Linked DNA regions of Homo sapiens: region 1 is linked to region 2. A link means that fine-mapping ties the variant in region 2 to the expression of a gene that starts in the linked region. Tissue or cell type: whole blood. Region 2 holds a variant in brackets; the other region holds the start of a gene. All regions are shown on one strand. Distances are between the middles of the regions.

Evidence for each region. PIP is the estimated chance that this variant, and not a neighbour inherited with it, causes the effect.
Region 1: it holds the start of CD24, and the variant in region 2 is fine-mapped to the expression of CD24 in whole blood (TOPMed, PIP above 0.99). The same link has a PIP of 0.9 or more in blood mononuclear cells.

What each region holds. Positions count from the first base shown.
Region 1 is chr6:106,972,228-106,977,877 of GRCh38, forward strand. It overlaps CD24 (CD24 molecule), which reads right to left and starts at 2,502. Exons shown (of 2, transcript NM_001359084.1): 1 at 2,351-2,502. The coding sequence starts at 2,419. RefSeq lists silencers at 2,854-3,003, 3,044-3,263.
Region 2 is chr6:106,713,748-106,719,397 of GRCh38, forward strand. LINC02532 (long intergenic non-protein coding RNA 2532) reads right to left here. Exons shown (of 7, transcript NR_033557.2): 7 at 3,705-4,495. It overlaps LOC105377927 (a long non-coding RNA gene), which reads left to right. Exons shown (of 4, transcript XR_942841.3): 3 at 197-340; 4 at 2,488-2,765. Among named protein-coding and RNA genes, the nearest start is that of LINC02526, 21 kb to the left of the region's middle. The variant A/G (reference allele first, on the strand shown) is at 2,454.

The DNA.
Region 1 (5,650 bases), 260 kb after region 2:
GGGATTTTTAAATATTGTAACTGAGACTTATGGAACTAGAATTCATTGGGTCACTGTCTATCCTGGATTTGCTAGGTAACTTTCACATACTCAATTTAATACAGCCTTGGTAACTTAGCCTTTTCCTTAAGGGGGAAATGCAGTCTTATCTTCTCCCTTGAAATTTGAAATAGTAACTCTTCTAAAAAATGGCCACAATATTTGTGTTAAATTGAAAAAGAAAATGAGTTTTTCCTTTAAGGCAGAATGACTTCAAGAAAACACCATGAAGTCGGAACGATTTCACAAAAGACAACGAGAGGTTATGGTGTTAAGTTTCACCAGCAGCAGCCTCACTGGTCGCCAAGCTCATTGCTGTGGCCAAGAACCAAGGTTCTCCCAGTGTCCCAGCGTCTGAGTGGCATCATTCACCACTGATTTTTCAAGCCACGAAATGCACAGTCCAGTAGGGCACGTGATAATCTCTCCTTTGTCATGGAACAAAGGCAGATCGGAGTTTTCAGCCCTCACTGCAAGGGAGGGTTTACAAGAGCTTCTGATTACAGGCTGGAGGGAGGACGTGGCACCAGGCAAGAGTCTGGGCCCCGTGTACATTTGGCTGCCTATTAATCCAAAGATAAAGCCCTCCTACATCAGCACCAGCTCCTTTTGTTGTAAAATCCATAAGGTCATTAAACAAATATTGACTACAGAAATGTACAAATCCTATCCAAAATAGATTAGTGACAACAACAAAAAAATCTTGATCAAGTCAAATTTATTTATCGGGCACCTACTGTGTGCAAGATTTAGTGTGTCCCATCAGGAAACGGCACTCCCAATAAAGAAAAGCATTAATATGGTAATTTACTTAAAACAGGGTGCCTGTTTTGGACACCTTGTTTGGGATCCCGCAAAGTAACCTGTTCTTTATTCATGCAATGAGTTTTACTGCAGCAGGTGATGTTTTCTTTTTAAAACCTGGTGTATCAATCTGAGGATCTAAAGATCCTCTACACCAACAAAAAAATTATGTTTATTAAACTGACACTAAACAAAATTTTCTCTCCCAAGCTAGATTTATTCGCATTATTAAAACTTCTCACTTACAATGTTGGAGGAAAAAAATCTGGTCGGAGAGAAGATGGGGCGGGGAGTGGAGGGGGCCGGTTTCTCGCAGCCGCGCCCCTCCCCCATCAAAGAATTGAGGAAGGCTCGGGAGCGCAGCGGACTGGGAGGAAGACAATAGGGTACGGTTACCCCGCCAGCGGTGGGGAAGCGCGTTCCACACTCAGGCTGCACTCCCAGGTGAGCCCGGACTTTCGATGTCTGGGGACGGAGGACGCAGCGCGCCCAACTTTGGGGGAGAAGCCCCAGTGACAGTCCTCGATTAACCCCAATCGAAGGCGCTGGAGAGCCGTCACTCCCATCCTCCAAACCCGAACTGACCCAAACAAACGTACCTTCTTCGCCCCCGCCCCCGCTAGGGTCTCCCAGGCCCAGCCCCCGGTCTCTCTCGCCGGCGCGGTGCATCCATACACCCTCGAGGCAGCGCTGCGCGGCCCCGGGTACCCGCACCCGGGGCGAGGTTCCCCGGATGGAGGATCTAGGGAGACCGCGCTGGTAGCGGCGACCCGAACAAAGCCTGGCGGGGACTCGGGACAGAATCGTCCCACCATGCTGCCTCCCCAGAACTAGCCAATCTGGGCTAAAATAACATGGGGATCCTAAGATGACAAGCGATGGACGTGAAAGGTTGCCTCGCAGAGAGCGCAGCGTCAGGAGAGGGTCCCCGCCTCGGCTTCAGCCCGGAACCGGGGTTTGTTTAAAAAGGGCCAGATAGCCGTAGCTTCTCCGGGATACCCAATCCAACTCCGAGGGTGGAGGATGGGCGTGAGCCGCCCTCCCCGAAAGGGACCGTCGCCTCTCTTTGTGTAGAGCGCGGGGAGCGCGAAGACATTCCTAGGGGAAAGCGAGTCCTCAGGGACCCAGGGACAACGTCCCCAGGGAGCCCGAGCTCTCCAGGCGCTAATCCCTGCAGGCACCTCGGGCCTCTGGGTGAAAGTGGGAAGTAGTCACCTGGCTGCCTGGGAAGGGACAGCGTGGAACCTGGGGTGGGGCAGGGTCCTCTCAGCCCGCACGCGGAGCTGCATTGTTCCCAGGGCCGTGGGAGGAGGGGGGGCAGCACGCAAGGGAATGGAAAAATGGGGTCCACATGGCCCTCTCCCCTGGTCAGCTAAGCAAGATTCTCTCCCGGTCCCTGTCCGTGGCCCGAGGCAGGAGCGCAGGACGGTCCCCCGGGACCGGGTCCATCTCCCCTGCCCCCACCCCGGGAACGGCCCTCGAGCCCCGCCGGGCGCCAGGGCCTCACCTGCGTGGGTAGGAGCAGTGCCAGCAGCAGCAGCCCCAGCCCGAGCCTGGCCACCATTGCTCTGCCCATGTCCCCTCCGTCGGTGCGCGGCGCGTCTAGCAGGATGCTGGGTGCTTGGAGAACCGCTGGCTCCGGGCGGGCGCAGGCAAGGTGGGGAGCGCGGCGAGCCGGCGAGACCTTATATACCAGGAAAGCCACAATAGCCGTGACGTGGCGCCGCCCGCCCACCCCGGCTCCCCTCCGCCGCCGCCCGCCGCCTCCCCGCCTTCCCCGCCCCGCTCCGGGTTCCCCAGCGCCCCCGCCGCCGCCGCCACTGCCACCGCCGCTCCGGCCCTCGCGGGCCGGGAGCCCCCCGGGCGGGCGCCGCTGCAGGTGGGCGGGCGCCGCCGGCTGCTGGTACCCGGCTGGTATCCCCGCGCCGGCTGCGGGCTGCGGGCAGGCTGGCACAGGCGCCCAGCGCCTCCGGCACAGGACCCGGGGCACACACGCGAGCCACACACGCCGCGCTGGGGGCCGGGCCCAAGTTTCCTTTGTTTCCCGGGACCTGCCATCTTACCCCCCAAAAGAAAAGTCCGCGCCTCCGCTGCGGCGGGGTAGCCGCCTGTCCTGGAGCAAGTGCATTGCCACTCAGACTGCAAAATGCGCCCCGGGGACCCGAGAGGGGCTGCGAATTCCAGTGCGACCGCGTGGGGGGCGGGCGCCGGGACCCCTCGGGCAGGGTTATCTCTCGGCCCGCCGCAGAGGAAAGGGGAACGCGGCGGGCGTGGCGCGGACGCGGGCCGGACGCTCACCCTGGCCGACGGGACCCGGGCGCCGCCTAGCGCGAACCCTTCCCGGCTGGTCGGCGCTCCTCGCAGGCGGTGTCCGGGTCCGGAGCGATCTGCGCGCTCGGCCCCGCGGCCGCGCCCTCCCCGAAGCCCTTGCTTTGTTCTGTGAGCGCCTCGTGTCAGCCAGGCGCAGTGAGCTCACGGGGGCGTCCCGGGTCCGCATCTTCCCAGGAGCTGGGGAGCCGCTCGCTGGGCGCAGACCCGCTGCCTGACGCTGCAAACTACAGGGTTTCGGTCCCCCGCGCTCCTGCCTGCGGCGGGCGAGGAGGAGACGGCCCACCCTGAGGGGACCCCCTCCGCGGCCCTGAAGCCCCCACCGCCCTCCCCGAGCGGCTCTGCTCCCAGGTTCTACTCGGGGGCAGGAACCTCCCCTCCTGGCGGTCCCACTACAATTCACCGTCCCTCTCGAATTCCTGGGGATACACTTTTTCGGTCTCTGTTGCCCGTCATTCGTTTAAAGAGCAGAACCGTTCGAGATAAAGGCATTTACTTATCCGTAGTTGCCATTAGGCAATTTAATGAACCGGCACAAAGAGGAGATTCGTCATCACTCTTTAGATTTTGGTGGAATACTTTTTTCCTATCCATCTTATTGTGAAAACTTTCAAGCATACAACAAAAGTTGAAGTAATTTTACTGGTGGAGTATTTTGAGTTTAAATTTTAATTGCAAGACTTAATCTTTTTATTGAAGGTTTAGCCCAAGTGTTTTTCAGTCTTTAAAGCAAACAGCAGAGACCAAACCTAGTATGGTTGTAAATTTGTTTAAATTTCAGTTTTGCAGAACACTCTCGTTAGTATTTTTGGTTCAATTTTTAATTGCAAGACTTAATACTTTTATTTAAGGTTTAGCCCAAGCATTTTTCGGTCTTTAAAGTAAACCACAGAGTAGTAAGATTCTAAATTTGTCTAAATTTCACTTTTGCGTGGCAGTCTCATTAAAACAAAGTAAGTTTCAGGGAAGCAAAGTGACAATGAAATCTGCAGTAGGTTTGTTGACTGAATAGTGACTGAATTGGTTTGTGCCTTCAAGGTCAGTCACTTTAGCTCAGTAACTTTCCAAGCACGTTTAAGATGTGCTTGGGAACACAAGAATTTCTGTCGAGCACCAGTGGACTTTCCTGTTTAACAGTGTACCACATTATATAGAAATACTTTGGCCGGGCGTGGTGGCTCACACCTATAATCCCAGCACTTTAGGAGGCTGAGGAGGGCTGATCACCTGAGGTCAGGAGTTCCAGACCAACCTGACCAACATGGTGAAACCTAAAATCTAGTCTCTACTAAAATTTAGTCTCTACTAAAAATCCAAAATTAGCCATGCATGGTTGCTCATACCTGTAATCCCAGCTACTTGGGAGGCTGAGGCAGGAGAATAGCTTGAACCTGAGAGGTGGAGGTTGCAGTGAGCAGAGATCAGGCCATTGCATTCCAGCCTGGGCAACAAGAGCAAAACTCTGTCTCAAAAAAAAAAGAAAAAAGAAATAGTCTGGCCCAGCTTCTCCATTCCTTTTCCGGGTGAAAAAAATGGACTGTTTGTGACTCAGGAGTGCCGGGTTCCAAGGCAAGGAACATACTATGTCCTCCACAAGCTGCTTGTTGAACTAACTGGTGGTATTCCTAGGATAAGACAGCCTCTAAAGACAGACTGCCAGAGTTCAAACCGTGGCTCTGCTAATTTTGCTGGAGACAAAAAGCCTCAGTTCCTTCATCTATAAAATGGAGATAATAACATCATTACTAATTAGTTATTAAAGAGTTATTGTATATATAAGTGTTAGAATACTGCCTGCCTCAGAGTAGTAGCTCTCACTTAATATTTGCTCTTCCACTGAAGGTGCCAGCAACCAGAAGGTAATTACCTTCTCTGCCACTGTGTGATACGTGAAAGAATATCAGTCTCCAAATAATTCCCAAAACTGGCAAGGCACTCAGAATCTGTGCTTTGTGAACCATTTCATCACCAGCTAATGAGACTGGATAATTCACGTAGCAAAGCCCTTCACCTCTGCCCAGGAGTTCCCCCTGGGCATCCTACCGGGGGTGTTGCCCAGGACTTTGACAACTGGAGGCCCAACACAGGTAAGATACTTCTCTTTACAGGTCTCCACCCTACCCTTTTCCTGTACAGCTAGAAACTCAAGAAAACTGCCTGATTTTTCCTTTGCAGTTCTTTTGGCTTGTGATTCTTTCTTCCTATTCTTTATCCACTTCTCCTGGTTTTTCATAGTTTGTTTGCTAATAAAACCTGAGCCACGGCTGGGTGCAGTGGCTCACGCCTATAATCCCAGCACTTTGGGAGGCCGAGGCAGGCAGATCACATGGTCAGGAGATCGAGACCATCCTGGCTAACATGATGAAACCCCGTCTCTACTAAAAATACAAAAAATTACCTGGGCATGGTGGCACACGCCTGTAGTCCCAGCTACTCGGGAGGCTGAGGCAGGAGAATCGCTTGAACCCAGAAGGCGGAG
Region 2 (5,650 bases):
GGAAACTCCCCAAACTTCTCACACTGCCCCAGCTTCCAGGTAGAGGACTCAGTCTCCCATTCAGCTCCTCCTTGGCCCCTTCAGCTAGGAAAACCCAGCACAGTCACACTAGGCTTGTGTTGACATTAGCCCTGACAGCCCCTCTCCACTCAGGATTGACTGTCTTCCCTTGTTCACCTTTGACATTATTCTCTAGGCACCTGCCCAGCCCACTGGAAGAAGGAAGCTTACAATTCTGTATGCTTGGAACCCACCAAAGCCTGAGGCCTCACTGGCACCCAGCCATCCACAGGAGTTAGCAGCTGTTTGAGTCCAGAAGGAAGAACTTTTGGAGTCGGAGGTGGGAAAGATAGAAATTGCATCCAAATTATCACATTCCCAGAACCCTCTTTTGGCCCTGTAAGTTATTCCCATAGCCATTGATCATGCAATAGCCTGGATGAAAAGAGTAGAGCTGGAATGAATAGCTACAGTCCTGGTTAACAACAGCTTGAATACAAGCTCATTCCACTCCCAAGTTTCAGGCTGGCCTATCTGGGAGACAAATGCCAACTACTGTGGTCCTACACATTTTTACCACCACTGCATGCAGAGATAAGAGAGAGTTACTGCACTTTCATTATGAAAAAAAGCAACCAAAATGGCTTGGAGTAAAAATGTAAATTTTTCCTAACCCTGCTTTATCTGATGAGATATCCACCTGCAGTGAGGAATCACTGCCAGTTTCCCCTCAGAAGGTGTAAAGATCAGGCTAGTTCTGGGAAGGAAGATTGAGTGAGCATATTATTAACCTAAATGGAATTAGATTTCCGTTTCAATAAAGATTCCCATTAAGGCTGCAAGCAATACAGCGACAGCAGTGCAGCCATAACCACCCACTGCCTGTAGGAAGATGTGCTTGAATTACACCTGGCTGTGCACCCCATTATCACTTCACAAAAGGTAGTAACTTGAGGTGGACCTCTGTGGTCACCGTGTCCTTCTGCTGATGCCACAAAGGAATCCTAGCTTGGATGCAATCAATAATCCAAACATACATTACTCATGTATCAGCATATGACAAGAGGATGACAGTGGTTAATCAGCTAATTATGACATGCTCTTTTCATCCCATAGTGTATGACTTATTGAATATTCTTGTATTTTTATGTTTAGTTGCAATGGAAAGGGTATGGCAACTATATTTTATTCAAACTGTGTCCATCAAGAAGGGCAAATCCGTATGTATGTGTGATTTTGTTTTTGTTTTTGTTTTTTTTGAGACAGAGTTTCGCTCCTCTTGCCCAGGCTGGAGTGCAATTGCGCGATCTTGGGTCACTGCAACCTTCGCCTCCCAGATACAAGCGATTCTCCTGCCTCAGCCTCCTGAGTAGCTGGGATTATAGGCGTGCACCACCATGCCTGGCTAATTTTTTTGTATTTTTAGTAGAGACGGGATTTCACCGTGTTGGCCAGGCTGGTCTCAAACTCCTGACCTCAGATGATCCACCCGACTAGGCCTCCCAGAGTGTTGGGATTACAGGGGTGAGCCACCACAACCAGCGAAATCCATGTTTTTATATCCCTGGGGGAGGCATTGCCAGGGCCTGCCATACTGGGGTAAGCAGCTACTCCAGAGTCTTTGTCCTGTTTACCTATTTCAAGTCTAATGAAAATGTCAATTCTCTTTTAAAAGACTTAGGAAAGACGTCACACACTGGCATCCTGTGAGCTGCTGCAGCCCTCAGATTTGTTTTGTATGAGCAGCAGGTTTTTTCATTGTGTTTTTGTTTTTGTTTTTTTCAATGAATTCACTGCCAGTCTTCAAAACTCTGCCCTCAGATTTGTTTTGTATGAGCAGCAGGTTTTCTCATTTTGTGTGTGTGTGTGTGTGTGTGTGTGTGTGTGTGTGTGTGTGTGTTTAATGAATTCAGAGTCTCTAAAAAAAACTAAGAAAATCTAACAGAAAAGTCTGGACTTCTAGTTTTTCTTGGAAAAAAAGATTGTCTGGCTATCCTGGGCCCAAATTCCCTCATGCTGACAAGTGGCAAGACTGAACAGCAACTGTTTCTGCGCTCCCGCTGGCCCCAGGGGAGGGCCGCTTTTTAATTTTACACCCAGCAGCTTCTTTCCCTTTTATCACCTGGCTACCTGCTGACTTGAGAGTACCATAAGGTAGAAACAGTCACCAGAAGACCACAGTTCCAGTCCCCACTGCACTGGGAAACCCTGGGCACCTACCATCACAATTTTAAGCCCTTCTTGCATATGAGGAGACTGGAGCCAGGGTGGTGAAGTGGCTTGCCCGAAGGCATTAGCCCAGTGTTCTTTCCAATGCACCAGTGATGAGCAACCTAAATGCAGACAAAAGTGCTTCTGTTGCTCAGAGAAAAGGTAGGGCACCGGGAGCTGAAGGCGCAGGGAGGAGGGTGCGGTGCAGGATGACTGCCTCACTTGCCAGATGTGTCTAAAAG[A/G]AGAATCCCCATTCTCTTCCTGTTTCCTCTATAGACAAATAATGTTCACCACTCCACTTCCTTGTTCCTTCACACCTGCTACTTTGGATTCAGACGAGAAGTTCCAAGAATCCCTGAGTCCACAGCATGACTCTGGTTTGCAGAACCTCTGTCCAGACCAGCCAGATCAGAATACAAAGGAAAGTGACACATCCTGGATCTCAACCCACTTCGATGGGAAGTCTTCCTGATAAATTTAGAGATAACCTAAAGCCCTTGGGGACTTCCTCTTGATTTGAATCTGCTGAACACCTGCCGCACCCCCACCGCACCCCCCCCCCCCGCCCCCCGCCACCGCAGATGAAAACATCAACTCTGCAGAATTAATGGATATGGGAATCACCTGGGGACCTCTCATTAAATTGCAAATTATGATTCAGAGGGTCTGGGGAGGGACAGAGACTCTGCATTTCTAACAAGCTCTCCGGTGGTGCCCACGCATCACCGGGGCCGGAGAACCTTCCATCATTCCAGCAATGCTCACCATCACTGCCATTCTTGCTCTTCTTTCTGGGGCCGTTGCCCATTTTCTCCATGGTATCCTTCTTTTTTCCTATTCTTTTCCTCTTTTAATCCTTTTTTTCTTCCCAGCCAACTCACTATTCCTATATCCCTGCTAACCCTCAATGCTCCTTCACTCAAAGATGAAGAAACTCCTGCCCTTTCTTCCTCCAGACATTCATCTCCCTCCCTCCCTCCTCTCCTCAGCTTTGTAGTGCCAGGAAAAGAAAGATCACCATTTACTGACAATTTTGTGTGAAGCACTGTCCCAAGTGCATTACCCATATTACTTAACTCTCACAACAACCCTGCAAAGTACACATTATTTCTGCCATTTTAGACATGAGAAAATTGGGACTTGGGGTGGTTAAAGAAATCTTGTCCTCAACCAGGAAGTAGTGATCTGAGATTAGAATTTAGATCTGTCTGAGGCCAAAGTCTACAACTTCTATACTGCACCATGCTCATATAAGGTGAACAATCTAGAAGGCAGCTGGTAGGAGTGGCTTCAGTAAAAAGGAATGGAATACCACGAGCTTCACCCCATTTATGCATCCTGAACCCTTCACTCCACTTTTGTTAAGTACATGCCCTATGAGACGGTTTGACATACCAATAATGAGAGCTGTTTCAAGAATGCCCAGATTAGCTAGGATGGTTGGGACCTAAATAGCACAGTAGTAATATTAAAGCCCAAAGTTGCCAATATGCTCAATTTTCAATGTAACCTTTTATTATAAATTAAGACCCATAACTGTACACACAGAGTCTGTTACCAAAAAAGAAATTCCTTCCATTGGCCAATTATTCAACCACATGAAGTCTACTAAAGGATGATGCCAAGCCACCCATCAGTCCACACAGGATCCATCATGGATGGATAGCCAGTTCCTTTTTCTCTCTCTAGTTTCTCTTCCTTGATTCCACCTCTAGGATCCCCTCGCTCTCTTATTGTCCTTTGCCTTGTCCTCAAGATCCTACCAAGAGTCCTGGCTTCCCACCTGGGAGCATGTACCAGTTCTCCAAACCTTTGTGTGTTTCTGATTCCTCAGACTACCGCATCTACAAACTAGGAAACTGTACTCTTGCTTATACTGGCCCTCTCCCTCCCTTGACTTTTATTAGATACATCAAAACAAAACAAAAAACTCCTTTTAAATTCTGTTAAAGATCCTGCAAGGTATGAAGGGAGGAGAAAAGGCAGGGGCTGGGTATGAGGAAAAGTCCATCTTGACATACAAAAATGTTAAAAGTCTATATACTCAAAGGAGAAGTGAAGAGTCAGACTTTTACATGTGGAACAGACAGGAAAACTGGGAGCAATATGGTGTAGTCATCAGATGTGGGTTCTAAATTCATCTCAGCTACCAACCAGCAGTGCAACCTTGGATAAGCTGTGTATTTTTCTCAATACCAGTTTCTTCATCTTTAAAGTGTGGAGATTGGATTGAACAATTACTAAGATTCCTTTGTTCTCTACTCTGCAGTGTCATCTCTAGCACCTAAAATAAAATAAACCAGAAATTAATGAAAGAGTGAAAATAATATTGCTCTAACCAGAAACTGAGATACTTGATTGAGTAAATGCATGAAAACAAGAAGGTAAAGAAACCATGATTAATAATAATAAATGAATAATAATAACAATAAAATATAAAAAATTAAATAAAGACAAAAATGAATGAGCCTATAGTTTTACTTTTTAAGAAGATGTTAAATGCCCTTCCAAAGTGGCCACTCATTATCCATAGCTATCAGTTACTTGTAAAATACACTGTTGGGACAATGCATATTCTATTCAGAAGTATATTGCCACTTAAAAACCTTGTTTTCCAATAAAAGCATTGAGTTATAAAATCAACCAACATTTTTATTCTAAACTATGGTAGGTAGATCAGAAATAAAATTAGGTCAACATGAATAATTTCCTTCATGGCAGGTTACGGAATTTAATGTACGTGATATTTTCCCTCTTTGAAGTTAACATGTAATTATGTTTGCTTTATGCCAATTTATCTGCTTCTAAATGTTCCAAACTGAAAAAAGGAAAACAAAGCCTGCCTGTAGCTGCCTCTTCCTTCATATACACACCAGGCCAAAAGACAGAATGGCTGGAGGCATGGTCTCCAAGTGTGTGCTTTGCGGGAGGCCTACCCACCCTAAAAGTATAAGGGCAAAAGTGTATCTCTTTGTGTTTTGGAGCTGACTGGCTCAGTAAAATTTTCTAAGTCAGTCTGCACGTACACCACTTCCTCAGTCTTATAAGTGAGGACGCCCTCCTGCATCTGGCCCTTAGAAACCTGACCCCTCCTGATTGGTCATCACTTATTTTCTGGGAATCAGCTTTCATCAGCCCAAACCCTTCCAGCAGAAGGATGCCCCAGCCTCTCTACTCAGGGGATAACTTGCCCAGGAGAAACATTTTTTGTGATGATGTTCTTCTCATTCTCTTTCTTCTGTAACCCCATCCTGGCCTCAGGTACCCATGGTCTCTATGCCAAAATCACAGGTGAAAATTATATTTTGATTATTTGGCTTAGATTCTCTCCAGGCCTGACTTTCAACTACCATTGAAATGATTCTCCTAAATAAATATTACCTGAGAAAACCCAAGTTCCACCATTTGGGTCTGTCATGTTCCCAGATGAGGGAAGCAA